Homo sapiens: one gene and its partners. The protein of the gene in region 4 interacts with the protein of the main gene of each other region in a pairwise test. Each region holds a gene or a part of one and is shown on either strand. Other genes may lie near its edges.

What was found.
Region 1: the proteins of COL26A1 (region 4) and AMBN interact in binary tests that used the Homo sapiens proteins (3 or more experiments, as listed by UniProt).
Region 2: the proteins of COL26A1 (region 4) and MT2A interact in binary tests that used the Homo sapiens proteins (3 or more experiments, as listed by UniProt).
Region 3: the proteins of COL26A1 (region 4) and FAR1 interact in binary tests that used the Homo sapiens proteins (3 or more experiments, as listed by UniProt).

Annotation. Positions count from the first base shown.
Region 1 is NC_000004.12:70,587,678-70,596,053, reverse strand, and holds the start of AMBN (ameloblastin precursor), read right to left. Parts: upstream 3,799-8,376; 5' UTR 3,696-3,798; coding exon 3,681-3,695; intron 2,728-3,680; coding exon 2,659-2,727; intron 1-2,658. UniProt on the Homo sapiens protein: Involved in the mineralization and structural organization of enamel.
Region 2 is NC_000016.10:56,604,602-56,609,997, reverse strand, and holds MT2A (metallothionein-2), read right to left. Parts: upstream 1,415-5,396; 5' UTR 1,343-1,414; coding exon 1,315-1,342; intron 1,007-1,314; coding exon 941-1,006; intron 736-940; coding exon 644-735; 3' UTR 501-643; downstream 1-500. UniProt on the Homo sapiens protein: Metallothioneins have a high content of cysteine residues that bind various heavy metals; these proteins are transcriptionally regulated by both heavy metals and glucocorticoids.
Region 3 is NC_000011.10:13,705,868-13,714,307, forward strand, and holds part of FAR1 (fatty acyl-CoA reductase 1), read left to right. Parts: intron 1-2,032; coding exon 2,033-2,212; intron 2,213-4,825; coding exon 4,826-5,003; intron 5,004-5,896; coding exon 5,897-5,941; intron 5,942-6,060; coding exon 6,061-6,179; coding exon of another isoform or gene 6,180-6,188; intron 6,189-7,098; coding exon 7,099-7,166; intron 7,167-8,277; coding exon of another isoform or gene 8,278-8,335; intron 8,336-8,440. UniProt on the Homo sapiens protein: Catalyzes the reduction of saturated and unsaturated C16 or C18 fatty acyl-CoA to fatty alcohols. It plays an essential role in the production of ether lipids/plasmalogens which synthesis requires fatty alcohols.
Region 4 is NC_000007.14:101,357,772-101,366,652, forward strand, and holds the start of COL26A1 (collagen alpha-1(XXVI) chain isoform 1 precursor), read left to right. Parts: upstream 1-5,103; 5' UTR 5,104-5,261; coding exon 5,262-5,419; intron 5,420-8,881.

The DNA of each region.
Region 1 (8,376 bases), on a different chromosome or scaffold from region 4:
CCTCCCAAAGTGCTGGGATTACAGATGTGAGCCACTGCATCTGGCTTCCTTTTTTAAAAAATAGAGATGGGGGTCTCACTATGTTGCCCAGGCTTGTCTTAAACTCCTGAGCTCAAGTAATCCTCCTGCCTTGGCCTCCCAAAGTGCCAGGATGATAGGCATGAGCCACCATGCCTAGCCTTTTCCTTTTGTTTTTTGTTTTTTTGTTAAATATATTTTTCTTTTGAAACCAATCCTTATTACTTTACACAAATACCGGTAGAAAACATGGCGAATGGAAGAGTAGGAATTAGAGTAAATTGGATTTTGAGAGTCTCTGGTTCTTTGGATATTCTCACTTTCTAAGACCAAGGGGTTGTAATGCCGTCTTTCCTTCAGTTATACCACAAGGATTTAGGGAATGTTTACCAAATATATCAGTATTATTTTTCCTTTATGAGTAAGAAGTTAAAGAATTACACCCCCTACTTTTTCCACCCACCACCTTTTTCATGTAAGTAAAATCCCACCTTCTGGGTCATAGTGAGAATTTCTTTAAATAATTCAGTTTTGGACAAGAATAGAGGGAAAGGGCCAGGCATGGTGGCTCAAGACTAATCCCGGAACTTTGGGAGGCTGAGGTGGGCAAATCATGAGGTCAGGAATTTGAGATCAGCCTGGCCAACATGGCGAAACCGCGTCTCTACAAAAATACAAAAATTAGCTGGGCGTGGTGACACGTGCCTGTAATCCCAGCTACTTGGGAGGCTGAGGCAGGAGAATCGCTTGAACCCAGAAGGAGGAGGTGGCAGTGAGCTGAGATCTCAGCATTGCACTCCAGCCCGGGCAACAGAGCCAGACTGTAAAAAAAAAAAAAAAAAAAAGAATAGAGGGAAAGGCATTACAAATGTGTAGCAAATACTCTGGGTAGGAAAGAGGTTAGCTGTGTAGACAGGAAGAGTGATTGTGCATGTATGTGTGTATGTGGTGGTTAGCTTGTTGAGAATTTGGGGGAATCGTGAGAGCAGGACCTTCTTCCCCACTATTTGCCAGTGCATAAATAACACATCCTGGATTGAGCCACAGAACAAAGTGTACTTTGCTTTCCATCTGCTCTAAGTCATGACTTAAAGAATATTTACACGAATGTATACAGATAGGGGATACATTTCCCATGCAGAATTAATAGGAGAAGAACATCTGATTTGACAGGCAATGAGTTGGCAATAATAAGCAATTGTTCTGTTCCTCAGAGTGGACCCAATTGATTCAGGTGTGGATCATTATAGGTTCAAAGAATGCCAATGTGTTAGACTGATAGTGAATGACTGAGGCTCATCCCAACGTCAGTATCATATAAAGGTAAGCTAGGGTGGCACCCTCAATTTTTCTTTCATTTAAAATTCATCTTGCGTGATGGAACAGAGACTATTTTTATTTGTGGAATTAAGGTTTTCATCATTATAATCAGTTTTCAACCTCTTTCTCCATTTCCATTCTCTTTCTCTAAAACACTTTAAGAAGACCAAGTAGCTAACCTTTTCTTTCAAGGAATTAAAATACTCTAAAGTTCATTTGAGGCCAACTGTGAGCTACTGGAGACAAGAGATCATGTCTTATTTACTTTCATTTTTCCATGTCTTATTTACTGGATGCATGGCAGCTGCTCAACATATTTGCTAAATGCATATAGCAGCCAAATAAAGTTTTTGTGATAACAGAATTGCATGCTGTTGGCTGGAGTAGTTCAGTGTTCAAAAGATTGTGTTTGTATGAGATCATTTCAATATATACTAGAATGGATCAGGTGTGGGACTGTAATACACAATTAGCCCCATCACTATGATATGTTTTGATTTATGAAACTTCAGCTCTCAGTCACACAATTTCATGTTTACAAGGTAAATTTGCTAGTTAATTACTAGCTTTAAATGGAATTATCTAGCTGAGTTTTGTAACCATAGAAATTTAGAGATAGTTCTTTTTGAAATGAAGAAAATGTATTTTTTTCAAAGAAATTTCCTCTTTCCATTTCAACTTTATAATGATAGCAATAAGTTGATAATAAAATTTCGCCATGCATTGTGGAGACTATCTAAGCTTTTAACTTTGAATGAGTGGAATAAGATCTAGAAATTGTCTTGGGACTATTTTAAATAACTTTTTAGTAGAAATATCATACTTCACTTACTGCTTTTTTTTTTTTTTTTTAAATGGAGTCTCACTCCGTCACCCAGGCTGGAGTGTAGTGGCACAATCTTGGCTTACTGCAACCTCCGCCTCCCAGGTTCAAGCAATTCTCCTGCCTCAGCCTCCCAAGTAGCTGGGATTACAGGTGCCCACCACCACGCCTGGCTAATTTTTGTATTTTTAGTAGAGACAGGGTTTAGCCATGTTGGCTAGGCTGGTCTCAAGCTCCTCACCTCAGGTCATCCTCCTGCCTCAACCTCCCAAAGTGCTGGGATTACAGGCGTGAGCCACCGCACCCGGCTATCACTTACCGCTTTTGGATTGCAAGACTGACATCTGAGCAACTATGGCTTTTGACTCAATAGGACTAAACCACTGGATTAAATCAAGTGAGTCTATGCGTGGACTCTCAGTCCATATCCCTTCAGTGTTGTTTGGAGTTCGACAATCAATAACCTTTTCTGGGACACACTCTAAAGACTGACTTACCGGCACTGCAAAACTCATTTCCAGGAGGCATAGGATCAGTATCAGGTCCTTCATTTTGAAAAGTGGAATCTAAAACATAATTAAGTTGGAGAATTAAATCAGATGAATTTTTATTCAGAATGGTTAAAAGACAATTTTTGAAAATGAGCCTGAGTCTCTGCTCTTACAAAAACCACCGGGATAAAGGTTAGAAGAACAAAAACAAAAACTAAATGTTACTAAACAACCGATTTGTATGTAGTAGTTTCTGAAATAAATTAACAAGCAATTAAAAAATATCTAAGCACGTTTTAAATGGATCTACAGCCTAAATAAGTATGTAGGAACAACCTCCATCGATATTCTTTGTGATATATTTCATTTCATAAAGTGAATTATGAGTTTAAAAATCCTTCCCACTAAGTAAAATATTGGTCTATAAGGTATTATTCACAGAAGTTTATACTTTGCTTACCCTTTGGGACACATTTTGAAATGCATGTGAAATGTAATGCAACTAAGTCATTTTATAACAAACCTTTATTTGCAGGAATAGAGGGTACATCATTGCATGTTTAGGTAATCTACGTAACCATGACAAAATTTTTCTTTTCAAATGAGAGTAAATTGGCTATCTTAATTTTCTTTGATGTTAGTGGAAAATATGTCTCAAATTTAGCTTTCCTCTTCCTAAAATGAATTATCTTTTAAAATTTATTCTATAAATTCAAAAAGCTCTTTATTCTTACATGAATAGAGATCTGAATAGCCTAGAAATTTACTCATCTTCTAATATTAAAAAGAATTAGGCACTATAATCAAAAACATTAAAAAAAACACAATCTATAAATAAAAGTCTTTTTTTTTTTCTTAGTTGAATGGGTGTTAGGCATGTCATCTCTGGGACATGCTAATGGATTACAACAAGCAATAATTCAGCTACTGGTGACAAATGAAGATAAATCCTCTTTATAAAAGCTGTCAGGAGATAGGAAAAAAAGAATTTACAGGAAACACATGGAAATCATAAAATCCCATTTTACCTTAGATGCTGACATGCACTGTGCTCTCAGGGCCTGATGATGCCAACCAAGATAGTTCTAAGAAAAGAAGATTAAAATTTTTTTCAGGACTGTGCGTGGGACTTGCTCTGTACTTCTCATTCAGGGAAGATTAGAAACCTTTATTTAAAGTGCCAATCCACCAATCAAAGTGAAGCAAAATGGCGAGGGGTGGCGGGGGGGAGTTGGGGCGGGAATCTCTGCTCCTGCAATTAGTCCACACCCTTTTATTGCGTGCAGGGACATTGGCCCAGTAGGGTCTCATTATTTTTAATTGTACTGCAGCCCCTGTACTTATTCAGAGAACTTGATAGCAGGGAAGGCAGTAAAGGAATAATGGACATAGGCTCTGAAGACAATTATTTTGGTGAGCTGGGGAAAATATATGTAAAATAGGTGCAAAACAAAACCTGTTTTGTGCAGGTTTTATCTGCAGATAAAGCTAGTGACCCAATGCTAGCATTCTTCAGGTTTTCACCCTCCTGTTTGTTGTAGTAAAAGAGACTACTGTCCTTCCCCCCAGCACACACAGAGTTTAAAAGAAAACACTAAAATGTTAGATGGAAAATTAATGTGTGTGATTTCTTCCTTGAATTTCCTAGATATTTTCATATCTGGAGATAATTGATTAGAGATAGCCAAGCTTTTGTAAGAAACTACAGTTGGACCCTTTGCAAGAATCAGGTTTACTTCAGGTAAACGTTTGGTGCATTTTAAAAAAAATCTGTGGGGACGGGGACGTAAATCAGAACATTCTCTATGAACCAAATCAATGGGCACAAGTGTCAGTTCACTCTTCAGATAGACACATTCCCAGGCATTAGTATCAAGCCAGGTTAATAAGACATATTTCGATCACTTAAAAGGTTAACGTCAACACAGATTGGTTTTTCTCCGTGAACAGATAATATCTTGGATGTGGATTGAATATTAGCTGCTTTTGTTACTTCTCTGCCCATCCTTGTCTTTCCAAAGTTGTGATTTCAGATATGGTAGGGATAAGCATTTAAGATTAGTTCTGAAGAAGGGATGAGTCAGTACACTCTTTAGGGAAGTAGGGATCTTGTCAATTACAGGGAACATTGAGGAAGCTGGTATTTTGAGAGAAAGCTGTATCCATACCCAAATGTAGGCCTAACAGCTTCAAATAATGTTATCTTAGAAGCTGCTCCTGAAAACCTCTGTGTTCCACTGATACCAGAATTATCTTTAGGATGCAAAGAAATGAAGAATGTGAATGTGTTTTGCAAACAGCAAAATGTTATTGAAATGAAAAGTATTATTTTTCATGCTGTCTCTGGTGCTTGATGCAGTCCCTTAATCTCTTTTGAGCCCCAGTTCCTTCTTCTGTTATGTAAGGATAATAATTAATGACCACAAGCTAGTCTTTTTTTTTTTTGAGACGGAGTCTCGCTGTGTTGCCCAGGCTGGAGTGCAGTGGTGTGATCTCAGCTCACTACAACCTCCGCCTCCTGGGTTCAGGCGACTCTACTGCCTCAGCCTCCTGAGCAGCTACGATTACAGGCCTGCGCCACCATGCCCGGCTAACTTTTTTTGTATTTTTAGTAGAGACAGGGTTTCCCCATGTTGGCCAGGTTGGTCTGAAACTACCGACCTCAGGTGATCCTCCTGTGTTGGCATCCCAAAGTGCTGGGATTACAGGCGTGAGCCACCACGCCCAGCCTGAGCTTGTCTTAAAGATTGGTGAGATGGTGAAGATGCAGCAGCTGCCATTTATTGGGTGCTGAATGAATGAGTTGATTGTCCTTTTGGTAGGAGAAACTACATGAAATATGAGACCACAAGAACTGTGTGTGTGTGTGTGTGTGTGTGTGTGTGTGTGTGTGTGCTGGAGGAGGAGGAGTGCTGGCAGCTAGGTTCATAAGCTCCAAGGAGGTAGAGGAGGGACCTGATGGAGGACATTTTCTCTGTGGAAGTTGATGCTGAATCCATAGGAACGAGCTTCCTAGTTGGCTAAAAAACTGGCAAATAGTGTGTATGTGTGTGTCTTGTAAAGTTTATAAGCGTGATCATGACACACTAATAATGATGTTTTGGTAGGATTCTTATGTTCTGCTTTGCTTTTGAGCCAAATATCCAATATATCATACACACTGTTGCTTCTTCCTTTTTTAAATGTCACACTCCATTCTGGCTTACTGACTTCCAGATGTTTATCTGGTAGTTTATTTCTCCTCCAATATCCTGCACACCAACACTAGACTTATCTTCCTAAAATACTGGTTTTGGCATTTCACTGCCCCACTCAAAAACTATGTAAGGATCTCTAAGGCTGTCATAAAGTTCACCCTCTGTAACTAGACAGTCAATTGAACATTTCAGTTCCTCTTTCCAATCTTGTTTCCCACTTTGCATGAGACAGTGTGTATTCATATTGTAATAATGATTGTAATCAATTGGAGTTGGTTTCATTTTTTCAGCTAATAAACAGTTTTTTGTCAGATTTTATGGGATGTATGTTACTGGGAAAGTTGGTAAATGTAATACTAATATATCCTACAAAAAATTTTCTATTACAATGAAATCTGGAAATTAGTATGAATGTATGAATGAGTTTCTGACAGTGATTATAGATATAAGGAAATTACCATAGCTGATGGAAACCATGTTATGTTGGCCAAGACCATACCTGTATGAAGAAGAATCAGAGAGTCAGTTATAAGAAAATACTTGTGTCTGGAGTACAGCAAAATAAAAAAAAATCTCAAAGTGACAAAAGATGTGAGACACATGAAGAGACATAGGCCATAGAAAAAGTTACAATGAAAAATTTAGAGCAACAAGATCTGGCAGAATATGTTAGTAAAGTGGTTGAGAGCACAGCTGTTTAAATCCCCTCTGTAATACTCACTGGTCATATGACATTGAATGAGCCACTATATAATCTTCATGTAGTTTTTTTTTTTAAAGTTTTTTGAGACGGAGTCTCACTCTGTCATCCAGGCTGGAATGCAGTGGCACGATCTTGGCTCACTGCAACCTCCGCTTCCCAGGTTCCTGCAATTCTCATGCCTCAGCCTCCTGAGTAGCTGGGACTAAGGGCACGCGCCGCCATACCCAGATAATTTTTGTATTTTTAGTAGAGACAGGGTTTCACCATGTTGGGCAGGCTGGTCTGTAACTCCTAGCCTCAAGCGATCTGCCCACCTTGGCCTCCCAAAGTGTTGGGATTACAGGCATGAGCCACTGCACCTGGCCTCCATGTTTTCACTTTATATAAATACATATATTTTATATATATATACACATACACATATATTTTATATATATGTATATATGTATGTATATATGCATATATATGTATATATACATTTTATATATGTATATATGTTATATATGTATATATGTATAAATGTATATATATTTTATATATACATGTATATATAGTATATTTTATATATTATATATACACATATTTTATATATGTGTATATATACATACATATATAACATATATACATATATAACATATACATACATACATAACATATATACATATATGTTATATATGTATATATGTATGTGTATATATTTTATATATGTGTATATATAGTATGTTTTCTATATGTATATATGTGTGTATATATACATATGTTTTATATATATACACATTATATATATATATATAGAGAGAGAGAGAGAGAGAGAGAGAGAGAGAGACAGAGTCTTGGCTCACTGCAACCTTCACCTCCTGGGTTCAAGTGAGTCTTCTGTCTCAGGCTGTCGAGTAGCTGAGATTACAGGCATCCACCACCATGCCCAGCTAATTTTTTGTATTTTTAGTAGAGACGAGGTTTCACCATGTTGGCCTGGCTGGTCACGAACTGCTGACCTCAGGTGATCCACCCACCTCGGCCTCCCAATGTGCTGGGATTACAGGCATGAGCCACTGTGCCCAAGCTCATATAACATTTTTATCTGTGAAATGTGGTCTACCGTAGGTCAGCATTAATTTAATTTAAATACGAAATATAAGGTGCTTAGCACACTAGCTGGTAGCCAAGAAATGTTCAGTGATCATGAGTTATTATCATTCTTGTGGAAATGAAATATGAAGGCTAAAAATCTGCTTCATATTAAAATACTTTCTCAGCTTTATTGAGGTATAATTGATATACAATAATTGCACATATTTAATGTATACATCTTGATGAGTTTAGACATACGCATATACCCTTGATATCAGCATTACAACTAAGGTAATAAACATATGCATTACCTCCAAAAATTTCCTTGTGTTCTTTTGTATGTGTGCTTTTTTATTAAGTAGTAAGAACATTGAACAAGAAATCTGTCCTCTTAACAGATTTTTAAGTGCACAATATAGTATTGTTAACTATGGGCATATTGTACAGCAGATCTCTAGAACTTATTCATCTTGCATAACAGAAATTTTATACTCATTGAAGAACAATTCTCCATTTCTCCCTCCCCCCAGCCTCTGGCAACCACTATTCTTTGCTTCTGTGAGTCTGGCTATTTTAGATACCTCATGTAAGTGGAATCATGCAGTGTCTGTCCTTTTGTGACTGGCTTATTTCACCTGGCATAATGTCTTCTGGGTTCATCCACGTTGTCACAAATGGCAGGACTTTCTTCTTTCTAAGGCTGAATAATATTCCATTGTATGTATATTTCCCATTTTCTTCATCCATTTA
Region 2 (5,396 bases), on a different chromosome or scaffold from region 4:
TTTTGTGTCTTTTAAACTTTCATTTTCTTATTAACTCCTTATTTTACCAGAGTTTAGGTCTGTGACTAATGGAGAACAAAACAAAACAAAACAAAACTGGTCATTCCCCACAGGGAGTTTGGGAAACCGGATGTCAGATTCCAGCCACTGGGGAGTTGGATTTCACCCTCTGTAGTCACTTTCAAGTCTAAAATCCCACGAAGAACTGAAGTTGGGCAGGGAAATTGAAAGTAAAAGTGAGGAATGGAGAAGTTTCTGTGCCACATTTGACGTGAAACTGAAAGTGATCATGTATGTGTCCCTCCTGCTCCCATATGATCTGGCACAGCGCCATTCAGTTTTACAGAAGCTGAAGCTCAGTGCAGTAGCCTGGCTTGCCAGAATGCACTCTTTCTTAACGGCTCACATTTCCATCCACAGCCCAGGTCTCTGCCCTCCCAGTTCAATCCCTCACCCCAGTCCGTTATTTTTAAGGCATATAAAGGAAACCAGAGACAGAATCAAGTCAAAGCTGTTTTATTATCATTCACATTATTTCATAGAAAAAGGAATATAGCAAACGGTCACGGTCAGGGTTGTACATAAAAAATCCAGGTTTGTGGAAGTCGCGTTCTTTACATCTGGGAGCGGGGCTGTCCCAGCATCAGGCGCAGCAGCTGCACTTGTCCGACGCCCCTTTGCAGATGCAGCCCTGGGCACACTTGGCACAGCCCACAGGGCAGCAGGAGCAGCAGCCTGGGGGCAGACAGGAGGCGGCAGAGATGAGTACTAGCGACACCGGGAATAAGGATTCCTGCTCTCCCTGATAAGGATCACTGAGGAGGCAACAATTTCCGCGCAATGGGGCATCCCCAGACTGCTTTAATTCCCCTGAGGATGGTGGAGAGGGGACAGGCTGGAGGACAGGGAAGGGGTAGAGGAAAGAGAGGATCCCACTTACTTTTCTTGCAGGAGGTGCATTTGCACTCTTTGCATTTGCAGGAGCCGGCGCAGGTGCAGGAGTCACCTGCAAGGAGAAAAGACAGAGGTGAGAACCGTCCCTGGATACCTGAACAAGGGACGGCGTACTAAGAGCCCGGGGCCGAGTTCCTCAGTCCACAACCGATTCCTGGGAACTTGAGCAAGCCATTAACTCAGATCTCCTTAACGGTAAAAAGGGGGCTCCGAATAACCTAGAATGGAGAGAAAGATACCCCAAAACTCTTTGGGAAGGAGCAACTCCTGTCCTGAAATTGAGTGACCAGAGAAAGAAAGAGGGGTCAGAAATTGCTTCTCTAGCGCTACAGTCTACACTGGGCATCCCCAGCCTCTTACCGGCGGCGCAGGAGCAGTTGGGATCCATGGCGAGCTGAAGAGGCGGCTAGAGTCGGGACAGGTTGCACGCGGGTTCGCTGGGACTTGGAGGAGGCGTGGTGGAGTGCAGCGCGGCAAGCAGTGTTTATAGCTAGAAAGAGCCGGGACGAGTGCAAAAGCCCCGCCCCGGCCGGGCGCTGCCTGCACACGCCCCGCGCTGAGTCACTTGCGGCTCCAGGCGAAACACCCGGCCGCGCGCACTGGGCCGGGCGCACCCGGCTCTGCACACGGGCCGCGGGCGGTCAGTTCCCTGAAGGCGGCCCACTTGCGCCTCGGGGACGCCTCGGCGCGGAAGGGGCTGGGTGCAGCGGGAGGACACAGTGTACCGGGTGCTGGGTGCCCACGCCGTGCGCCTCCGCCGTGTGCACAGCTCCCCTCCCTCCTGTCCTGTACTCGAACCTGAGCCGTTAGCGCGCGGGTGAAAGCGGGACTTGGGAATGCTGCTTGCATTCCCAAACCGGTTGGAAGTGCAGACAGGTTACAACTCTGTAGCAGCCAAGGCTTAATAATTGTGCAGCATCACAGTAAACCCGTGGGGTGGTTACTGATGACGTATCCGTTGCATGTTGAGTACTTTTAGCGTGTAACAGGGACTGTAGGAAGTGTGTTGTGTGTGAGATGTCACTTAATTCTGTAGCAACCCATAAGATAAGGACTCTCCAGTATTCTCATTGTAGAGAGGAGAAACTGCAGGTCCAGAGAAGTTAATTTGTCCAGAGTCACACAGCCAGTGAGTGGCAGAGCAGGGTGAATGCGACCAGGCCCCAGCAGATGCTAACGGCCCTCTAACATAGAGACACCAAGGAGGAAGAGTAAGGAGAAGAAGCCACAAGCTTGGTCCTCAGGAAGCTCAGGGGCTGGGGGAACAGAGAGGAGGAGACCCCATCCAGCCTGGGAGGAGGTGGGCCATTGCCTTGGGCCTGAGGGTCAGAAGGTGTTTGCCAGGCAGGGAGTGGGAAGGATTTGTGTTCTAGCCTGGGAGGGAGGAACTAGCGGGAACACTGGAATCGCCCTGAGACATTTGGAAGGGAAAAACCCCACAAGAATATTCTTCCCCTGTGGAGGCTGAGGGGAAGAGCCCAGGTGGCGTCCACATTCCTGTCTGGAGAGGCACATCCTGCCTCCCTGCCTGCGCGTGTCTGGCGCTGTGTAAGGGCCTTAGATCGTCAACCTTGGAAGGCCCGAAGTGTGTCATGCTAGGAGTCAGGAAGTGGTTACTGGAAGCTTCCTGGCAGGCTTAGGGAATGCCGATTGCCACAGTGAAAGTTTAGTGAGGTGGTGGGCGGGGGAGGACAGGCTGTCCTTGCAGCCCTTACTGTAAGTTCCTGTGGAAATGTCTTTCTAGCTCAGCCGAATCGTCACTTCCTCTGGGGACCCTGTCCTGACCCCCATGACCGTGGCTGCCTGTGGAAGGTGCTGGTAAACATCCTGTTCTTTCCCCTCCTGGCGCTTTCCGTGCCTGTGGTATGTATAAACTGCGGGGACTCTTGGATTGGTGTCTCTGCCCCTCCTCACCAACCCCTGACCACTGGAAATGCCAAGGGCAGTCATTGTCTGCCTCTGGAATTGTGTCTTCAGCTTCCAGCACCGGGCCAAGTTTGCAGTAGACGCTTAATAAATATTTGTCAAATGAATTCATGGGGGTAATGGCCTGGACTGCTCTTCCCTTCCCAGCCCCCACCTTGTATGAAGGCCGACTACAAAATGAAAGTAAACACCTCTTGACCACCCTGGAACCTGCGTGCTCACTCTTGTAAAAACACCGCACAGGGCAGGGGGGCGAGCTCTCAGATGGACTAAATTTCAGTGGTCACTCGGCCACTCACTTACTCAGTGACCTTGGGGCAATTACATGCCTGGACTCTTCTGATCCCTGGTTTACTCATCTGTCAAATGACTGGGTTGTACTAGAATTTATATCCAAACATCCTCTGATTTTAGAGCCAAGATCTTTTGAAATCTCATGATGTCTGGCAGCTCTGTGGATCGAGAGCTCTCTGGGCAGTGGACCAATTTTGTTGTTGTTATTTATGTATGCACAGTATTATATACCAAATCCCTGGTTGCTAATAACTCAGATGGTCACCTATGCACTCAAGGCAAACAATCCAACTCTGTGAAGAAACAGAAGGGCTTATTTTGCCCTCAAAAGCATTGGTTCTAGCCCTAAAGCATTGGTTCTAGCCCTGGGTTTGTGCCAGCCATGTTGGCGGTAAAACTTGCTTGTGGGCCTGAGCTGTCTCTTTTGAATCACTTTGACTCTGAGGGGAGAGAAGGATAATGACTCAGGGAAGGTGGAGCAGGCCACAGGCCTAGTCTGTTCATCTCCATGCCCCCAGAAGCTTCACTGTGCTTGGGACAGAGGTGAAGAGGGAGGACCCATGTGCATGTTTGCATCCCTGACTTGGCAGAGGATGAGGGAGTGAAACCAAGCGATATTAGATAAGGAAAAACATCCCCCTGAATATCTGTTGTGAGTCATCAATGTGAAGTGATGACGTGACCCTGGGCTGCATTAAGAGAGGTATGCCATGTAGAATGAGAGAGGTTATGTTTTTCATTCTCCTTTTAGCTGCAGGGGTGGATATATATAGATCTGCTGCCCAGCCATCCACTTGTCCTTCCCCTGTGATGATATCCTTGGTTTTCCTTTGAAGAACTACCCCTCCTTATTACCAGTCCATATGGTTTTGATGGCGTATGTCCCATCTGTGAGCTCCTAGGCCATTCCACCTACCTAGTCACAGTAATTGGCTCTGATTGGGCCACACAGCCACCAACCAAAGAGAATCAGTGATACTTTTGCTGGGAATGCTGGGAGAATGGCAGATAGTCTTTCCATCTGGACTTGTACCTGAGAGAATGTGAAGCTGAGTGAGTTTCTAAAGCTTTTTGGCTCCGTGAGAAGAGCCCAAAAATAAAATAATCACAAAGGAAATGGAGCCTGACAATATCTTGGAACACCTGGATCCAGCCATGCCTGAAGCCATTATGAGCCAATCATTTCCTTTTTTGCTTAAATTATTCCAGATAGAGTCCTAACTGGCATAGTTGGGCAGAACCCCCCTCTGCCCTGAAGGCTGTGTTCATTGTTGGGCTCCCATTGTCCAGAAGACAGCTGATCACAGGGGTCCTAAGGCCCAAAACCCTATCATGTGAGCATCAGCTGAGAGAGGTAGGCAGGTTCAATCTGGAAGTGAACAGTTACCTTCAAATATTTGGCAATGGTTGCCCCAGTTATCTGTAGCTATGCAACCAATTACCCACAATTTAGGAGCTTAAAACAATGACCATCTTATTGTCTTTCCTGGATTCGTGGGTCTGGAGTTGGAGCAGTGCTCACTTGGGCGATTCTTTTGTTTCATTAGCTGAGGTCACTTGGTGCTGTTCGGCTGGTGGATGGGCTGGTCTGGAGAATCTAAGATGGCTTCAGTCACACATCTGGCACTTTGGCAGGGATGGCTGGAGGCTGGGCTCAGCTGGAACTGTTGACCAGAGCTCTACATGTGGCTTCTTCAGCATGGTGGCCTCAGGGCAATTAGAGTCAGGTCATACAGTTGAGAGTTTCAAGAGATGGAAGTGGTAGCTGCAAGTCTCTTAAGCCCTGGACCCTGAAACTAGCACAGGTCGCTTGCACCATATTCTATTGGTCAAGCAGTGACAGAACCTGCCCAGATTCAAGAGGAGGGGAACAAGACCCCCTGTCTTGAAGGGAGGAGTCAACAAATTTCAAGCATGTCTAATCTGCCATAGTAGTCATGGGGAATAATATTGAGCACCTGCTGTAATTCAAGATTTGTGCTAAGAACACTATGAGTTTATCTTAAAGCCTAACATAGCCCTACAAGGCAGGTGCTGTTATCTCCATTTTACAGATGATGCCCTGAAGAGTTATGGGACCTGTTCAGGATAACGCAGCTTGTAAGTGGCAGAGCTAGGATTTGAACTCATACCTACATGTTTATACCATGTTGAAAAGAGGAAATTAGGCTTGCTTTCTGTGGTCCTAAGGGCAGAATCAGGACAATCGCAGTGGGTGGGGT
Region 3 (8,440 bases), on a different chromosome or scaffold from region 4:
GTAACAGAATATTCTCTGTATTCCTCTCCCAAACAGTACCCTCCCTATCCCCATTGTTTTGCAAATGTGATAGACATCAAAGCACTGCTTCACTTTACAGTGAAGTAGACTGGATTCTATCTATGACATCTCCTGGTCTTTTAAAACAATAGTTGGATTTTTTTCTTAAATACTGAAAATATAAGAATTTTAGAAAGTACTGAAAACTTTTTTTAAAAAATTTCCTTTGAACATTATTTTTCATTATTATAAACATAGACTTTCTAATTTTACTTTTAAAACAATATAGAAAATTTCTGTATTTCTAATTTTTTCCATAGTTATAATTTTAGTGATTTGATGATATTCCATCATGTTGACATACCACAGTTTATGTATTATTCACTTAGAATAAACTTTAAGGAATTTTAGTTTCTTTTTATTTGGAAAATGAGGATTAGAACAAGTTTTTCCTCTGAGTTAATTTCAACAGGTTAACTAGATTAATAAATATACCATTTCTGTAATTCCTGGTACTTTGTCCTAGTTTCCTTCAAATCATTTGTGTCAGTTTGTAGTATCAACAACAGTGTATTACTTTGCCATTTTTGTCACTAATATTGAGTATTTAAATCTTTTCGTTTGTTTGTTTTTATTTTTTTAATTGACAAAGGTATATATATTTTTCATTTACAACATGTTTTGAAATATGTATATATTGTAATGGTCAAATGAGCTAATTAGCATATTCATTATCTCACATACTTTTTGTGGTGAGAATACCTAAAATCCACTCTTTTTGTAATTTTTAAAAATAACAATATATTGATATTAACTATAGTCTATGTTGTACAATAGATCTCTTGGTCAGTTTTTTAAAAGCTGTAAACAGAAGTTTAATAGAAAGCAAATCTATCCACCATCTCATTACCTTAAGGAATATTTGTTGACTGCCTGTTTGGTGACTATGTTAGAAATACTGCTAAATGTTTGCAAGCTATTTGTTTAATTTTATACCAGTCTTAGTAGGTAGGTTTCATTATTGTTCCCATTTCCAGGTAAGAAAACTGAGGCCTGAGTGCTTCAGTTTATGTCCTGATAAGTAGGCCAAGTCAGGATTTGAACACAGGTCTGATTCCAGAGCCTTGTTTTTAATCCTGCTTCAAAAAAATCGTATGTATTCTTTTGGTATTATTCATACAAATGTTTCATATTTTTATAGACTTCAAATAATTATTTTAGTAGCTATATTCTTTCATTGTGATAAAATACTTACTTTATTGAGTCATTCCATATTCCATAGTGAATATTTGGGCTCTCTAGGTTTTTATTAATTACATGATGCTTCATTGATAACTTTTCTGCATATATACTTTTGCTTTTGTGGAATTATTTACTTCAAGTAAATTCCAAGAAGGGAATATATAGATTATTTTGGGGTCTTGCATATGCCTTGTAACAGATGTACCAGTTTTATTATAATATCCCTTTGAATTTTGTAGGGTAGCCTTAGAAAAGTGTTTGGATTGATTGCTACAAAGAGGAAAATAAACATCTTCTTTCTTGATTATATGTTAATATAATTTAATGTTTCTGAGTTTTCTCTGGCTGTATCACCCTTATTAGTGACTCTACGTTAACATTTTAAAATTACTTAACCATTCTATTTTTTTCTCCCTGTGGCACATCCATATTATGCAAGATTATACTTTTAAAAATCAAGATGCAAAATAAGTCTAGCATGACTTAAAAATGTATGCATAAAAGCTAAAGACTGAAATTATCTGTTTGTTCCTGGACAATTATATAATTTTTAAATTTCTACTTTAATTTTTAAGGGCTACAAGGCAGGTTATTTTATAATCAAATTTTTTTAACACAGCTGATAAACATTTAATATGGAAATAAAATACACAAAATCACAGCTAAAGGATAAGTTGTAAAGAAACAAAAATTTCTCTGTCTCTCTACTTCTCTAATGAAAATGATATTTTTAACAGGTAAAATAACATAGCTTCCCAATTTTCTATTGTCACTTTTTCTTTTTAAACAGAGATGCTGTTCAGTTAAATGTGATTGCAACGCGACAGCTTATTCTCCTTGCACAACAAATGAAGAATCTGGAAGTGTTCATGCATGTATCAACAGCATATGCCTACTGTAATCGCAAGCATATTGATGAAGTAGTCTATCCACCACCTGTGGATCCCAAGAAGCTGATTGATTCTTTAGAGTATGTTTGTTTGAAATTTATATACATTTACTTTGATCCCAAAAGAGGCCAAGGCGGGCGGATCATGAGGTCAGGAGTTCAAGAGCAGCCAGGCCAACATAGTGAAACCCCATCTCACTAAAAATACGAAAAAAATTAGCCAGGCATGGTGGCAGGCGCCTGTAGTCCCAGCTACTTAGGAGGCTGAAGCAGGAGAGTTGCTTGAATCCCAGAGGTTGCAGTGAGCCGAGATGGCGCCACTGCACTCCAACCTGGGCAACACAGTGAAACTCTGTCTCAAAAAAACAAAAAACAAAAAAAAAACCTTTGGATTCAAGTCCCTCCCTCTTCTCCTCACCCCACCCCATATACATGTGCGCGCGCGCGCGCACACACACACACACACACACACACACACATACATTTATCTCTTTTCTTCAAAAATTTTTGCATATCCCCTGCATTCTTATTGTATAGATTAATATCTAAATAAATGTTAATGAAGTCAATGTGTAGTTTTCACTTTTGACCAAGTATAATGGTAATATTTGGAGGAAGGCTCCTGAACATCTTATTAGTGATATTAGGGGCTCTCTTTTTCAGGGAATCAATCTTAGCAACCAAGAAGTACCAATGGAGACCCATGACTGCCTGTTTAATAGCAAGGCTCTAATTTATCAAAGGATTCCCCTCACCACCCCCCAGCCATGGAGTATATATATAGAGGGGCCTTTAATTATTAGAGAATCAGAGGAATCATAGTCTTTTAATTCATAACCTTACTTTTTATCTTTCTGAGGACTGAGATCCTGTCAGCAATTGTTACATGAAAATTATTTGTGAGTATTGATAGATAGGGATTAAATGAGGGAGTATATACCATGACCTTATTCTCATTTGCTGCAGCTCAGGCTTTCTCATCAAACAGACAAGGTTCAGACAAGAAAAAGAGAGATCTTTTTTACTTTTACAATTATATAAACATTCCAGTATCCACCATATTTTCATGTTTGTTAATCCTTATATAATATCTTTGAATTTTTTCCTCCTTTATTCTTCCCTCTTTTAGTCTTCTTTCTTTCCAGAGATTCTATCCACTTTGACTGCTTAGTTAACATCTGCTGCTTTCTCCTAAAATAAGCACAGTCTTTTCTTTAAGGCTTTCCTGCTAATATGAGGAAACAGATAGATTGTAAAAAAAATGAGAAATTACCAAGACATTTTCATTGTAATTCCCTAATTTCTATTTTCTCACTCATTTTCTTAGATGGTCCCAAATATCTACTTCATTTTCTTCATAGATCAATAAACAGAAATATTTAATATCTGCGGGAAAAGTTGAGTGTGAAAGTTAATGGAGCATTTTACTTTTTCTCTTACTAACAATATATACAAACATTTGAGAAACTGAAAAAGAACTTGTAAGCTAATGCTGTATCTCCTTTCCTTGCTGCAAAGAAATCTAGCTAACATAATTTTAAGATAACTCATGGGTTTGTTCTGTAAACTCGTTCTAGTAATAAGGCTTACTAGCTAAAGTTTCTCCTGAGTTTAGGCAGGTTTTTTTTTCCTCATGTATCAACTATCCCTTTCATTTTTCAAATCTCATCTCCATGGTGGAATTTTTCCTAAGTTGGGTAGCAATTTCCCTTCAATTTAATTGATGTTCTTTTCCTTTCATATACAAAAAGTACTTCCATATACAGAAGAAAATTTTATCTTGATAATCTCTGTTTTATGCTTTCTTATCAATTAGTATGGGTATCATTAGAGTATGACAATATACTGAGTCTACTTGCATACACAGCATTATTGACAAGAAGTAAAAACAAGTACATAATGTATTAGAATCAGAAGTTTAGGAAAAACCATGGACACCACCTAGTATATCGCCCTCCTTTTACAGATGAACAGAGTAGACCATTTCTTCAAAGAGAACTGGAGGAATTTTTTTGACTTCATAGTAGGTTGCTAATTGAATTTTTATAGCATGCTTCAATTTATTTTTATTGTTCATCATAGCATTTGTTAATCTCATTAGAGCATATGATTTGCAGTGCTGCACCTTAAATACTAGGCCTTTTATGCCTTTTGTGTTCATTATAAATGTATGTTAATTATAACTGTATATAATTAACATGTTACTTCATTAGGTGGTTATATACAGATCTGTATTTCCTAACCTGCAAACTTCCAGAAGGTTTCAGATATATTTTGGAATTTATTTGGACTTTAGAGAGGGTATATAATTTATGTACTGTGTAATAAGAAAAAACTTTAACTTGATCTGGGTTAGTATCCCTGATCAAATACATGTAAAATATATGAATGTTTAAGTTGTATCAAAAAAAAGACCATAAGTCAGTGTAGATCAGATTTTGCTATCCACTGTATGATTTATGAAAGAACTCTTAGTTTTCAGATCTTTTTGGATACAGAAATTGCAGATAAGGGATTGTGGACCTGTAGTTGATGTTTAAGAAAAATAAGACTAAGTTCCATTTTTCAGTAAAAGTTGTCAAATGATTTGAGTCAGAACAGCAGATATGTTTGAATGTGCGAAGTTCAATTAAGTAGCTTTTTATTTTATAGTAAAATATCTGGAAATATATTTGTATGCAATTTCTTTACCAGGTGGATGGATGATGGCCTAGTAAATGATATCACGCCAAAATTGATAGGAGACAGACCTAATACATACATATACACAAAAGCATTGGCAGAATATGTTGTACAACAAGAAGGAGCAAAACTAAATGTGGCAATTGTAAGGCCATCGATTGTTGGTGCCAGTTGGAAAGAACCTTTTCCAGTAAGTTGTTAGAAACCTTTATAAATAACTGGAGTTGAGAATTTTAAGTTGTAACTCTGTATAAAAAGAGCTGGCAGTTCTTTAAGAACAGGTATTATTTACTAAAGGTGAATTACCATGGCAAAGCTGTTTTGTGTTCATAGAGTTAATTTTATTGGTACTTTCATTTCTATAATGTGACGCTGGGTATATAGAAATGTAGATCAACATTTAAAAAATCCTAAGTGAAAATTAAAAGCTGTGACATTTTCTTAAGTCAGAGGAGATTTGGTTTGTTTCTTAGTAGCAAAAAGAGGCAGACCTTCCAGGAGGTAGACCCCTTCCTCTGTAGATCACAAAGTAAAAAAGGTACAGGGTGTTAGGGTATTTGTGAATTCCTGGAATGAGAGAAAGCAGAAATATAAACCAGTTGGGTCAATTGATTTAGGCAAAACCTAGGTCTGTGTAATGGTAGTAAGTGATAGCATCTGTTGTTGCTTTGACAATTATTCTATTTTTCTCTGTTTTATTCATAATTTTGAGGAGGATTTACCATTTTCCCTAATCTCAGGCTATTGAATTAGTAAATAGCATAAAATCAAACTTGAACAAGCTTAATTTTGTAAAAATATTCAACAATATAAACCCTCTTTTATAAATTTCTCTTTGCAGAGAGTTAATGGAAGAGTAGTAGGTAGCCCTTTGAAAATGATTTTACTCAATTATTTTTGATCCCAGAGGAAGACTGCTTCTGTTTGGGACTGGTAGAAATAGTCTGGCCTGAATCTAGTCTGTTTTTTAGTTTTTAGAAGACAGCTACCAAGTATATATTTGGGGTTGTAGAGTTCAAATAATAAATCTCTAGCTTCATAATGTTTCTAAGCTTCTCTCCCTTTTAAAATTTTTGGTATTAGGGATGGATTGATAACTTTAATGGACCAAGTGGTCTCTTTATTGCGGTAAGTAAACCTTTTGATTTATTTAATATTCTATACATTTTTCTGCTTTTTGTATATCTTTAAATATATATACACTATGGCTTATATATCTTAAGGTGTTGTTTTTAATTTCAACAAAGGCAGGGAAAGGAATTCTTCGAACAATACGTGCCTCCAACAATGCCCTTGCAGATCTTGTTCCTGTAGATGTAGTTGTCAACATGAGTCTTGCGGCAGCCTGGTATTCCGGAGTTAATAGGTATATGAGGTGACAATGTCGCTTATTAAATATATAGTAACTGAAAAGGGAAGACATAGCTTTTGAGTAATGTTAATTAATCCCTCTATCCAGATATTGCCATACCAATATTTAGGCTGTATCACTGCCAACTCCAAGAGTTGGTATTATCACAGACAATAGCAAGTGCTCCCATCAGTAGTAATGAAGAATTAATGTTAATGCTCATGTATTACTTACAGGATAGACAAGTTCACTTAAAAATGAAAAAAAAAAAAATACCCTCCCCTAAGCATGATTTTTTAATCCAAACTAAAACTTGTTGAATATATAAAGAGCTGAAATTCACAGAATATGGTTTACATATATTAAACATGGTACACCAGAGCAGCTTTAATCAGCCCATGAACATCTTTCCTTTAAAAAATAATAGTAGCATTTACAGGTAACACTTAAACTTTAAACTTCCCAATAACTTTTTTTTTCTAGGTAGTAAACTACCCTTATTTTTGATAATCAGTATTTTCTGTCCTAAAAAAAGAGAGATAGGATTATATGAATATGTTGTTTCTGGCAAAAGGAAACTTAGTCCATAATTTTTTTTCAGCTAGATCCTCTGAAAATGAGACAAGAAGAGCTGAGGTCATTTGTTGTTTTCCTCGTGTTTAAAAATAGACATTCCTGCTAATATAAGGAGGAAAAATGTGAAAGAAAAAAGTCTGTATTTTTTAAAATAAGTTATTATTTTTGGTAGGGGAAGAAGAAAGGGTAGTTGTAAATAGTCATTAAAGTAAAAACTAATCCTTTAAGGATAATTAAAAAAAAATAGTATAGAAAAGGTGCCCATCATCCTCATGTCTTCTTGAATACTATGTAGGACTTAGATTGGATATGTTTGGCCTCTTATTATGATTAATTGGTTTCATCTTTGTCTTTGCAGACCAAGAAACATCATGGTGTATAATTGTACAACAGGCAGCACTAATCCTTTCCACTGGGGTGAAGTTGGTATGATTTTACCTGTGTTTTTGAATGTTAGAATAAATCTTAAAGAACCAAGTTCCCTGAAGTTTTAATGTTAGAATACCTATGAGGCATTAAGGCCACTGAGTTACCAATTTGTTCTTAATTGTCGTCTTAGAAGTATTATCTACCAATACTACCTTGTGGTCCTTAATAATGTTTCACAAATTTAAAAATATACTGCTGTCTATTCTTACCCACCCACCCTACCCTTGTCTAAGCCTTGCTGTTTTTCTCCTGCCATCTGCAGTAGCCCTCGTAGATACCTATGGCATGGGAACAGTGCTTTTTTTCTCCCTTGTGAGCACCCTCAGTCTTGATGTTGCCTATCCATAGGCAGTATCACTTCTTACAAGAGGTGGTATATCAAGTGGTACCCAGAGTAATAAATGAAGGAGTTAGGAAGTAGGATACAGTTTGCCAGAATATTTTCTATTAACCTGTATTAATCTATTTAAATTCACAGATTCACAGCAGATATACATGTTCCTAGTTCTATAGGAATAGCATAACTTAAATAGGAATAGTTAAAACCCATTGAAATTGAGTCAATTTTAAATTGTTGGTTGATGAGTTCAAATTTAAAGTAAAATTTTTTTGGCATTGATTTAGTGATAGGTCTTATTTAACCTCTAATTGATTAATTACCCCTGCAGAACAATTTTGATTTCAATGTAGATTTTTTATGACATTTGTCCTAGGATTTTTCTGTGGCATTTTTATTTCAGTGTAAAATTGACCATTAGAGCATATAAGAAAAAGATAAAATCTAAGGTGATTTTAACTTTATGATAATTATTTTCAGTATTCTTTTAAGAATATTTAAACATTTTTAATGAGTTAGGTTTTTTTGTAATCTTTTATTGTGTTATAAAGTTTAGTAAAAGCTGAAATTGAGCGTTATATTTTAGTGACTATCTCAATATACATTTCTAGTAAAGTATTAATATAGATGATACTAGGTTTGATTATGTTGACATTACATAGCCTATATAAATTACAACAGAAGTTAATTTTGGGTTGTTTTAAGCCTGTTAATGTATGTTAATTTGAGCATCTTAAGCAAAGGATGATTATTTTCCTTTTCTTTTTTAAGTAAGTACAGTAATAAGAGTCTGGAAAGAGGAACAGAAAGGAAGAAGCTATCGTGAGAGGTGAAATATAGAAAGTGACACTGTAAACTGACATAGGTAAAACATTAAAAGGATTTTAAGAGTGAATTTTAGCAAAAATTCATTCATCTAAAATTCATAAATAGC
Region 4 (8,881 bases):
CTCTGAGTTTAAGACAGAGACTTGGGACTTGGGAAGTATGGACATTCCATTTATTTATTTATTGAGACAGAGTCTTGCTCTGGAGTGCAGTGGCGAGATCTTGGCTCACTGCAACCTCCGCCTTTCAGGTCCAAGTGACTCTCCTGCCTCAGCCTCCTGAGTAGCTGGGAATTACAGGCGCCCGCCACCACGCCCAGCCAATTTTTGTATTTTTTTTTTTTTTTTTTTTAATTTTTATTTTTTTTATTGATCATTCTTGGGTGTTTCTCGCAGAGGGGGATTTGGCAGGGTCATAGGACAATAGTGGAGGGAAGGTTGGCAGATAAACAAGTGAACAAAGGTCTCTGGTTTTCCTAGGCAGAGGACCCTGCGGCCTTCCGCAGTGTTTGTGTCCCTGGGTACTTGAGATTAGGGAGTGGTGATGATTCTTAACGAGCATGCTGCCTTCAAGCATCTGTTTAACAAAGCACATCTTGCACCGCCCTTAATCCATTTAACCCTGAGTGGACACAGCACATGTTTCAGAGAGCACAGGGTTGGGGGTAAGGTCACAGATCAACAGGATCCCAAGGCAGAAGAATTTATCTTAGTACAGAACAAAATGAAAAGTCTCCCATGTCTACTTCTTTCTACACAGACACGGCAACCATCCGATTTCTCAATCTTTTCCCCACCTTTCCCCCCTTTCTATTCCACAAAACCGCCATTGTCATCCCGGCCCGTTCTCAATGAGCTGTTGGGTACACCTCCCAGACGAGGTGGTGGCTGGGCAGAGGGGCTCCTCACTTCCCAGTAGGGGTGGCCGGGCAGAGGCGCCCCTCACCTCCCGGACGGGGCGGCTGGCCAGGCGGGGGGCTGACCCCCCCACCTCCCTCCCGGACGGGGCGGCTGGCTGGGCAGAGGGGCTCCTCACTTCCCAGTAGGGGCAGCTGGGCAGAGGCGCCCCTCACCTCCCGGACAGGGCGGCTGGCCGGGCTGGGGGCTGACCCCCCCACCTCCCTCCCGGACGGGGCGGCTGGCCGGGCGGGGGGCTGACCCCCCCACCTCCCTCCCGGACGGGGCGGCTGGCTGGGCAGAGGGGCTCCTCACTTCCCAGTAGGGGCGGCCGGGCAGAGGTGCCCCTCACCTCCCGGACGGGGCGGCTGGCCGGGCGGGGGGCTGACCCCCCACCTCCCTCCCGGACGGGTCGGCTGGCCGGGCGGGGGGCTGAGCCCCCCACCTCCCTCCCAGACGGGGTGGCTGGCCTGGCAGAGGGGCTCCTCACTTCCCAGTAGGGGCGGCTGGGCAGAGGCGCCCTCACCTCCCGGACGGGGCGGCTGGCCGGGCGGGGGGCTGACCCCACCTCCCTCCAGACGGGGCGGCTGGACCGGGCGGCTGACCCCCCACCTCCTCCCGACGTGGCTGACACCCCCACCTCCCTCCCGGACGGGGTGGCTGGCCGGGCAGGGGGCTGACCCCCCCACCTCCCTCCCGGACGGGGCAGCTGGCCGGGCGGGGGGCTGACCCCCCCACCTCCCTCCCGGATGGGGCGGCTAGCCGGGCGGTGACCGCCCCCACCTCCCTCCCGGATGGGCTGACCCCCCCACCTCCCTCCGGACGGGGCGGCTGGCCGGGCCGGGGGGCTGACCCCCCCACCTCCCTCCCGGACGGGGCGGCTGCCGGGCGGAGACGCTCCTCACTTCCCAGACGGGGTGGCTGCCGGGCAGAGGGACTCCTCACTTCTCAGACGGGGCGGCTGCCGGGCGGAGGGGCTCCTCACTTCTCAGATGGGGCGGATGCTGGGCGGAGGGTCTCCTCACTTCTCAGACGGGGCGGCTGGGCAGAGACGCTCCTCACCTCCCAGACGGGGTCGCCGCCGGGTAGAGGCGCTCCTCACATCCCAGACGGGGCGGCGGGGCAGAGGCGCTCCCCACATCTCAGACGATGGGCGGCCGGGCAGAGACGCTCCTCACTTCCCAGATGGGATGGCTGCCGGGAAGAGGCGCTCCTCACTTCCTAGATGGGATGGCGGCCGGGCAGAGACGCTCCTCACTTTCCAGACTGGGCAGCCAGGCAGAGGGGCTCCTCACGTCCCAGACGATGGGCAGCCAGGCAGAGACGCTCCTTACTTCCCAGACGGGGTGGTGGCCGGGCAGAGGCTGCAATCTTGGCACTTTGGGAGGCCAAGGCAGGCGGCTGGGAGATGGAGGTTGTAGCGAGCTGAGATCACGCCACTGCACTCCAGCCTGGGCACCATTGAGCACTGAGTGAACCAGACTCCGTCTGCAATCCCGGCACCTCGGGAGGCCAAGGCTGGCGGATCACTCGCGGTTAGGAGCTGGAGACCAGCCCGGCCAACACAGCGAAACCCCGTCTCCACCAAAAAAGTATGAAAACCAGTCAGGCGTGGTGGCGCGCGCCTGCAATTGCAGGCACTCGGCAGGCTGAGGCAGGAGAATCAGGCAGGGAGGTTGCAGTGAGCCGAGATGGCAGCAGTACAGTCCAGCTTCGGCTCAGCATCAGAGGGAGACCGTGGAAAGAGAGGGAGAGGGAGACCGAGAGGAGAGGGGAGAGGGGAGAGGGGAGAGGGAGAGGCAGAGGCAGAGGCAGTACAGTCCAGCTTCGGCTCGGCATCAGAGGGAGACCGTGGAAAGAGAGGGAGAGGGAGACCGAGAGGGAGAGGGGAGAGGGGAGAGGGAGAGGCAGAGGCAGAGGCAGGGGCAGGGGCAGGGGCAGGGGCAGGGGCAGGGGCAGGGCTAGTTATCCAATTTTTGTATTTTTAGTAGAGACGGGGTTTCACCATGTTGGGCAGGCTGGTCTCGAGCTCCTGACCTTGTGATTTACCTGCCTTGGCCTCCCAAAGTGCTGGGATTACAGGCGTGAGCCACCATGCTTGGCCATCTTCCTGTCGTCTTCTAACAACAATCCTACAATCCTTCTTTGAGGGGAGAAGGACAGGCTCAGTATGTAACCCAGGCTGAAGTGTCATGGCACCATCATGGCTCACTGCAGCCTTGAACCCTTAGGCTCAAGCAATCCTCCTGCCTCAGACTCCTGAGTAGCTGGGACTACAGGCACACACCTCCACGCTTTGCTTTTTTTTTTTTTTTGTAGAGATGGGGGGGTCTCACTATGTTGTCCAAGCTGGCCTCGAACTCCTGGCCTTAAGCAATCCTCCCGCCTCAGCCTCCCAAAGCATTAGGTCTTTGTTGTTTTGTTTTTTGAGACGGAGTCTCACTCTGTCCCCCAGGCTGGAGTGCAGTGGCATGATCTCAGCTCACTGCAACCCCGGGTTCAAGCGATTCCCCTGCCTCAGCCTCCTGAGTAGCTGGGATTACAAGTGCATGCCACTACGCCCAGCTAATTTTTTCTATTTTTTTAGTAGAGACAGGGTTTCACCATGTTAGCCAGGCTGGTCTTGAACTCCTGACCTCAAGTAATCTGCCCACCTCAACTTCCCAAAGTGCTGGGATTACAGGCGTGAGCTACTGTGCCCGGCTTCCAAAGGATTAGGATTACTGAAGTGAGCCATTGCCACTGGCCTCTACAATCCTTTTGCAAAATGTGCTCCAGTCCAGCAAACACTTCCATATTTGATGGTTTTTCTCCATCCTGTAGGCATTTTACAGACAGGAGTTTTCAACTGGTCACAGGGGCAGAGCAAGCCTCAGGGCATCTGCACCCTTAGGTTGCTTTTGGAAGAATTAGGAAAAAAGCTCCCAGGCCGGGCTAGGTGGCTCACACCTGTAATCCCAGCACTTTGGGAGGCGGAGGTGGGTGAATCACCTGAGGTCAGGAGTTCGAAACCAGCCTGGCCAACATGGCGAAACCCCGTCTCTACTAAAAATACAAAAATTAACCCGAAATGGTATTGCTTGCCTGTAATCCCAGCTACTCGGGAGGCTGAGGCAGAAGAATCACTTGAACCCGGGAGGCAGAGGTTGCAGTGAGCCGAGATCGCACCACTGCACTCCAGCCTGGGTGACAGAGCGAGACTCCAACTCAAAAAAAAAAAAAAAAGAAAAAGAAAAAAAAAAAAAGGAACAAAATGCTCCTAACCCGGGCGAGTAGAGTACGGGCTGGATTTCTGGTCCCACCTGGGCCTGGAGCAGGGTCCAAGCCCTATGGGAATCCTGCAACATAGAAAAGACCAAAACTTGGGTCCAGGCTGGCCTTGGGCCCAGCATGGGATCTAGGACTCTGCTTTTCTGTTTATAAAAGGTGGGATTGTCCTACATCTTCCTGAAGCCCTTTTCTGGATAGGATGTCTCATGAATCTGTGATTCTAGCTACAACTTTTTTCTTTTTTTGAGATGGAGCCTCACCTTGTCATCCAGGCTGGAGGCCAGTGGCCTGATATTGGCTCACTGCACCCTCCGCCTCCTGAGTTCAAGTGATTGGCTTGCCTCAGCCCAGCCTGTAGTTGAGATTACAGGCACCTGCCACCACACTAGGCTAATTTTTGTATTTTTAGTAGAGACGAGGTTTCACCATGTTGGCCAGGCTGGTCTCGAACTCCTGACCTCAGGTGATCCGCCCACCTCGGCCTCCCAATCTAGCTACAACTTCTCACCCCAACTGACCCTTCCGCCCCTCCCAAAGCTTCTTACCTGGAAGAGACAGCGGGGCAGGTGGGGGCTGGAGGTTAAAGGGGAAGGAGGAGAATCCTGGGAAGCTCTGGTCAGTTTCTCACGGGAACGCAGCGCTTTGATCCAAAGAGCCCTGCACAAGGATCGGAAGACTCGCATTTGTCTGGCTTAACTTTCTCCAGCCTCAGTTTCCACTTCTGAATGGGACCATCGAGGGCAGTGTGGCGAGGATTCACCAACATCGTCCAGGTGAAATTGGCAGACACAGAATGGGCGCTCCGAAAGCATTCGCGGACCCGAAGAAGGTTTGGTTTCAAAGGTTCTAAGGTGTGTAGCGGGGGCCTGGGCGCGAGGTCTGGCTTTCGGGGTGTTAGGCTCCAGGGACCTCCTGCGGAGCTCGCACCCTAGCTCTGCCGCCACTGCCGCCTCCTCGGCCCCGGACCGCCGAGGGTTAACAAAAAAGCCCCACGCCCCCTTTGACGGCTTAGAGCCCACCTCGCCGAATTTGAAAAGGCGGCCCCGGAGAGGCGTGGGCGCCCCCCACACATTTCCAGCTCGCACCCGGGCTCCGACCGCTCGCCCCGCTCCTCTCGCTGTGCTCCCGGCCGGTGCCGCGGGTTCGGTCCGGGCGCCGGTGCGCTCCTGCCGGTCCTCGTGCCCGGGACTCCGGGTCCCCGCGGGCTGCTGCGCACGATGAAGCTGGCCCTGCTCCTGCCCTGGGCGTGTTGCTGCCTCTGCGGGTCGGCGCTGGCCACCGGCTTCCTCTATCCCTTCTCGGCCGCAGCTCTGCAGCAGCACGGCTACCCCGAGCCCGGCGCCGGCTCCCCTGGCAGCGGCTACGCGAGCCGCCGGTGAGTAGCTCGGGGCCGAGGGGCCGGGGGGTGGGGGGAGGGAGCGGACAGCGGGGGCCCTGGCCACTGGGTGGCTGGAGCGAGGCTTGGGGGCTGGAGAGCGGGGCGATCCGGGACTTGGGGGCGCAGGGCAGCGGGGACTGGGGGCTGCAGACACCGGGCAGCTGGAACGAGAGCTGGAGGGGGTTGGGGTGCGGGGCGATTCGGGCCTGGGGGCGCGGGGTGGCGGATGCCAGGGGCAGGGGACACGGGGCAACTGGGACGAAATGGCGGTGGCTGGGGGTTGGGGTCACGGGGGGAAAGACCGAAGGGCCTTGGGTGCAGGGCGATTGGGGGCTGGGGCGCGGGGCGGCGGGGGTTGGGGGCTGCAGACGGGGCAGCTGGAACGAGCGATGGAGGAGGCTGGGGGTTGGGGCCGCGGGGCTGCGGGGCTGCGGGGTTGCGGGGGCTGAAGGTTCGGGTCCGGCTCCGGGGCTGCGGTGGTCTCTGGCCGCGCCCACCCTGTCCCTTCCTTTCTTCGCTTCCCCAACCTTCGCCCCCTCGTTCCGGGCTCCGAGTAGAGGTGGTTCCGACCGCCGTGGCTGGGGCTGGGGCTCTGCCCGGGGCGTTCGGCCGCTCACGTGGCTCTGCCGCTCACCTGCGCGGCTGCGGCTTTGTGTCGCGGAGCAGGTTCTCGGGTGGCCAAGGCCTCGCGTCCCGGGCACCCCTCTCCTATCAGCGGCCCCAGGACACCAGAGGGGTCATTCCCGCCCAGTCTTTGGGGCTGAGGCCGCGGAGGATCCTCGGCTGCGACTCCCCAGCCACCCCGGGACGTGGAACCGGCTGGGATCGGGTGGCTCCGTGGCGGGGTTGGAGAGGGCGCAGGGTCACCGGGCCCGGGCGCCGGGACCCGCCAGGCGTCTCCTTCCTCTCGGCCGGCAGGTGGCGCCATGGCCACCCCCGGGACGCTCAGGGCTGCGGCTCCGGAGCCCGCATTTGAATTTCCCCAGAAAACCATAAGCATGCAAGTAAAAGTTGCCAAACGCCTCGTTTGCATAACTCGCTTGAATTTAGCTTTTCTCATTTAGTGATAACTACAACCTACACAGCTATGACAGCGCTCTGGAATGCACTACCTGTGTCTGTTCCCTCCGTCTCTTTTTTATATTTTAATTTTTTTTTTTTGCAGAGGCAGAATCTCAACTCTGTTGCCCAGGCTTGTCGCAAACTCCTGGGCTCAAGCGATCCTCCCGCCTTGGCCTCCCAATCTCCATTTCTTTTGATCCTTAACAACCCTAGGGTTAAAACATTAGAGTAGTATCTTTCCTTTAGCTGAAGAAACAGAGGCTCAGGATTTGCTAGGCCTAGGAGCCACTCAGGACTGACCTCTTGTGCTTTCTTTCTTTTTTTTTTTTTTTTAATATAGGGTCTTGCTTGCTCCCCAGGCTGGAATGCAGTGGTGCGATCATAGCTCACTGCAAACCTGATCTCCCAGGCTCAAGTGATCCCCCGACCTTGGCCTCCTGTGTAGCTGAGATCACAGGTGTACACCATCATGACTGGCTAATTTTTTGATTTTTTGTAGAGGTGGGATCTCACTGTGTTACACATGCTGGTCTCAAACTTCTGGCCTCAAGAGATCCTCCTGCCTCGGCCTCCCAAAATGCTGGGATTACAGGCGTGAGCCACCACGCCAGGCCCAGATCTGGTGTTTTCTAGCATACTGCTCTGCCTATCAAAGCTAAAAGACAGCTCCTAGTTCTTTTTTTCTCCTTGATATTTACCAAATCAGAGGACTCCAAGATGATTTCTGGCTAATTCCTTAATAACAAGGAGACAGGGATGTTTCATGCTGGGAAGAAATATACAGTCATGGCTGAATAGGGCGGGACCCAGAAAAGCATAAAAGTGCCTCTGGAAAAGTTTGTATGCAATCCTATTTCTCTCATTTTGTTTGGAAATACTTACCCGGGGCTTCTATGAGGAGCATTCTCCAAACACCCACGCTAGTGTGGCCTCTGCACAGTTCCATATGAGGATTGTCTAAAAAACAAGCTTTTCAAGTTACAGAATAATATATACAGCACGATTTCATTTATGAAAAGGAAAATCAGATCTACATCTAGGTAGATAAATGCCTGAAAAAAGTTTCTAGGAAACCATTTCAGCAGTTAATGTTATGAAGAAGTCTAGGGCTGGGCCAGGGGACTGTCCCATTTTCCCTCTGTCTGCTTGTGGCTTGTCTGAATGTTTTTCTGGTTTCTGTGTTTTTTTTGAGACAGAGTCTCGCTCTGTCTCCCAGGCTGGAGTGCAATGGTGCAATCTTGGCTTACTGCAACCTCTGCCTCCCAAGTTCAAGTGATTCTCCTGCCTCAGCCTCCCAAGTAGCTGGGATTACAGGTGCCCACCACTGCGCCTGGCTAATTTTTGTATTGTTGGCCAATAAAAAATGTAACGTTGGCCAGGCTGGTCTCAAACTCCTGGCCTCAAATGATCTGCCTGCCTCAGCCTCCCGAAGTGCTGGGATCACAGGCATGAGCCACTGTGCTTGGTCCCTAAGAGAACCTACTGGCCGGTACGGGGATTGAATGGATGTTTTGCAAGGAGCGTATATTCATGTAATACTTTTGTAATTAAAAGGTGTGGGAAGGAAAAAAAAAAAGGTGTTTGCAGCCTGAAATACGCCTGCAAAAAAGCAAGAGGTGAGGACCATGAAGAGCGGGAGCGAATGGGGACCTCATTCTGGCATTTGGTGGGTTGGAACTTGGGGACATCTGCAGAAACTTGGAAGGGATCATTTTAGCACAAACAAAAAGAGGCTCAAACAAGTGTGGAATCTTCCAGAACTCTTTCCACCAGGATAAGAACAGGGAGAGGATATAATTAGGTTTAGGGAGGATGTGGATGAATCTGTGGGCAATGGATTCCTAAAAAGGATACCAGAAGGTGTTGGGGAGGCTTGGGGCACATTGATATTCCAGAGTGTGACTGAGTCTCTTTGCCCAGAAAGCCCAGCGTGGGCATTGCAGGCACCTGGTTGTTGCCTGGGTGAGTTACAGGCTGGAGCTGGCTTGGGCGTCACATGTTTCTGTGTCTCATGAGCTATCTATCACAAGTGTCCCTTGTCCTTGAGATCCAAGATGTCCAGAAGCTGAAGGCTTGGGGACAGCAGTGGTCCTTGCAGCCTTGGCCTTCAGTAGTGTGTTTACCGGGGCTTGGCTTCAGTTGACAGGCAATGATGACAGGGCTGTTTCTTGACAAAGAGTGCTTTAATTTCATTGTTACTGCTCCTTGTTAACGTCTGATTTTTTTTTTTTTTTTTTTTTTTTTTTTTTTTTTTTTTTTTTTAAAGACAGGGTCTTGCTCTGTCACCCAGGCAGGAGCGTAATGGTGCAATCATAGCTCACTGCAGCCTCGACCTCCTGGGTTCAAGCAATCCTCCCACCTCAGCCTCCTAAGTAGTTGGGACCATAGGCATGGGCC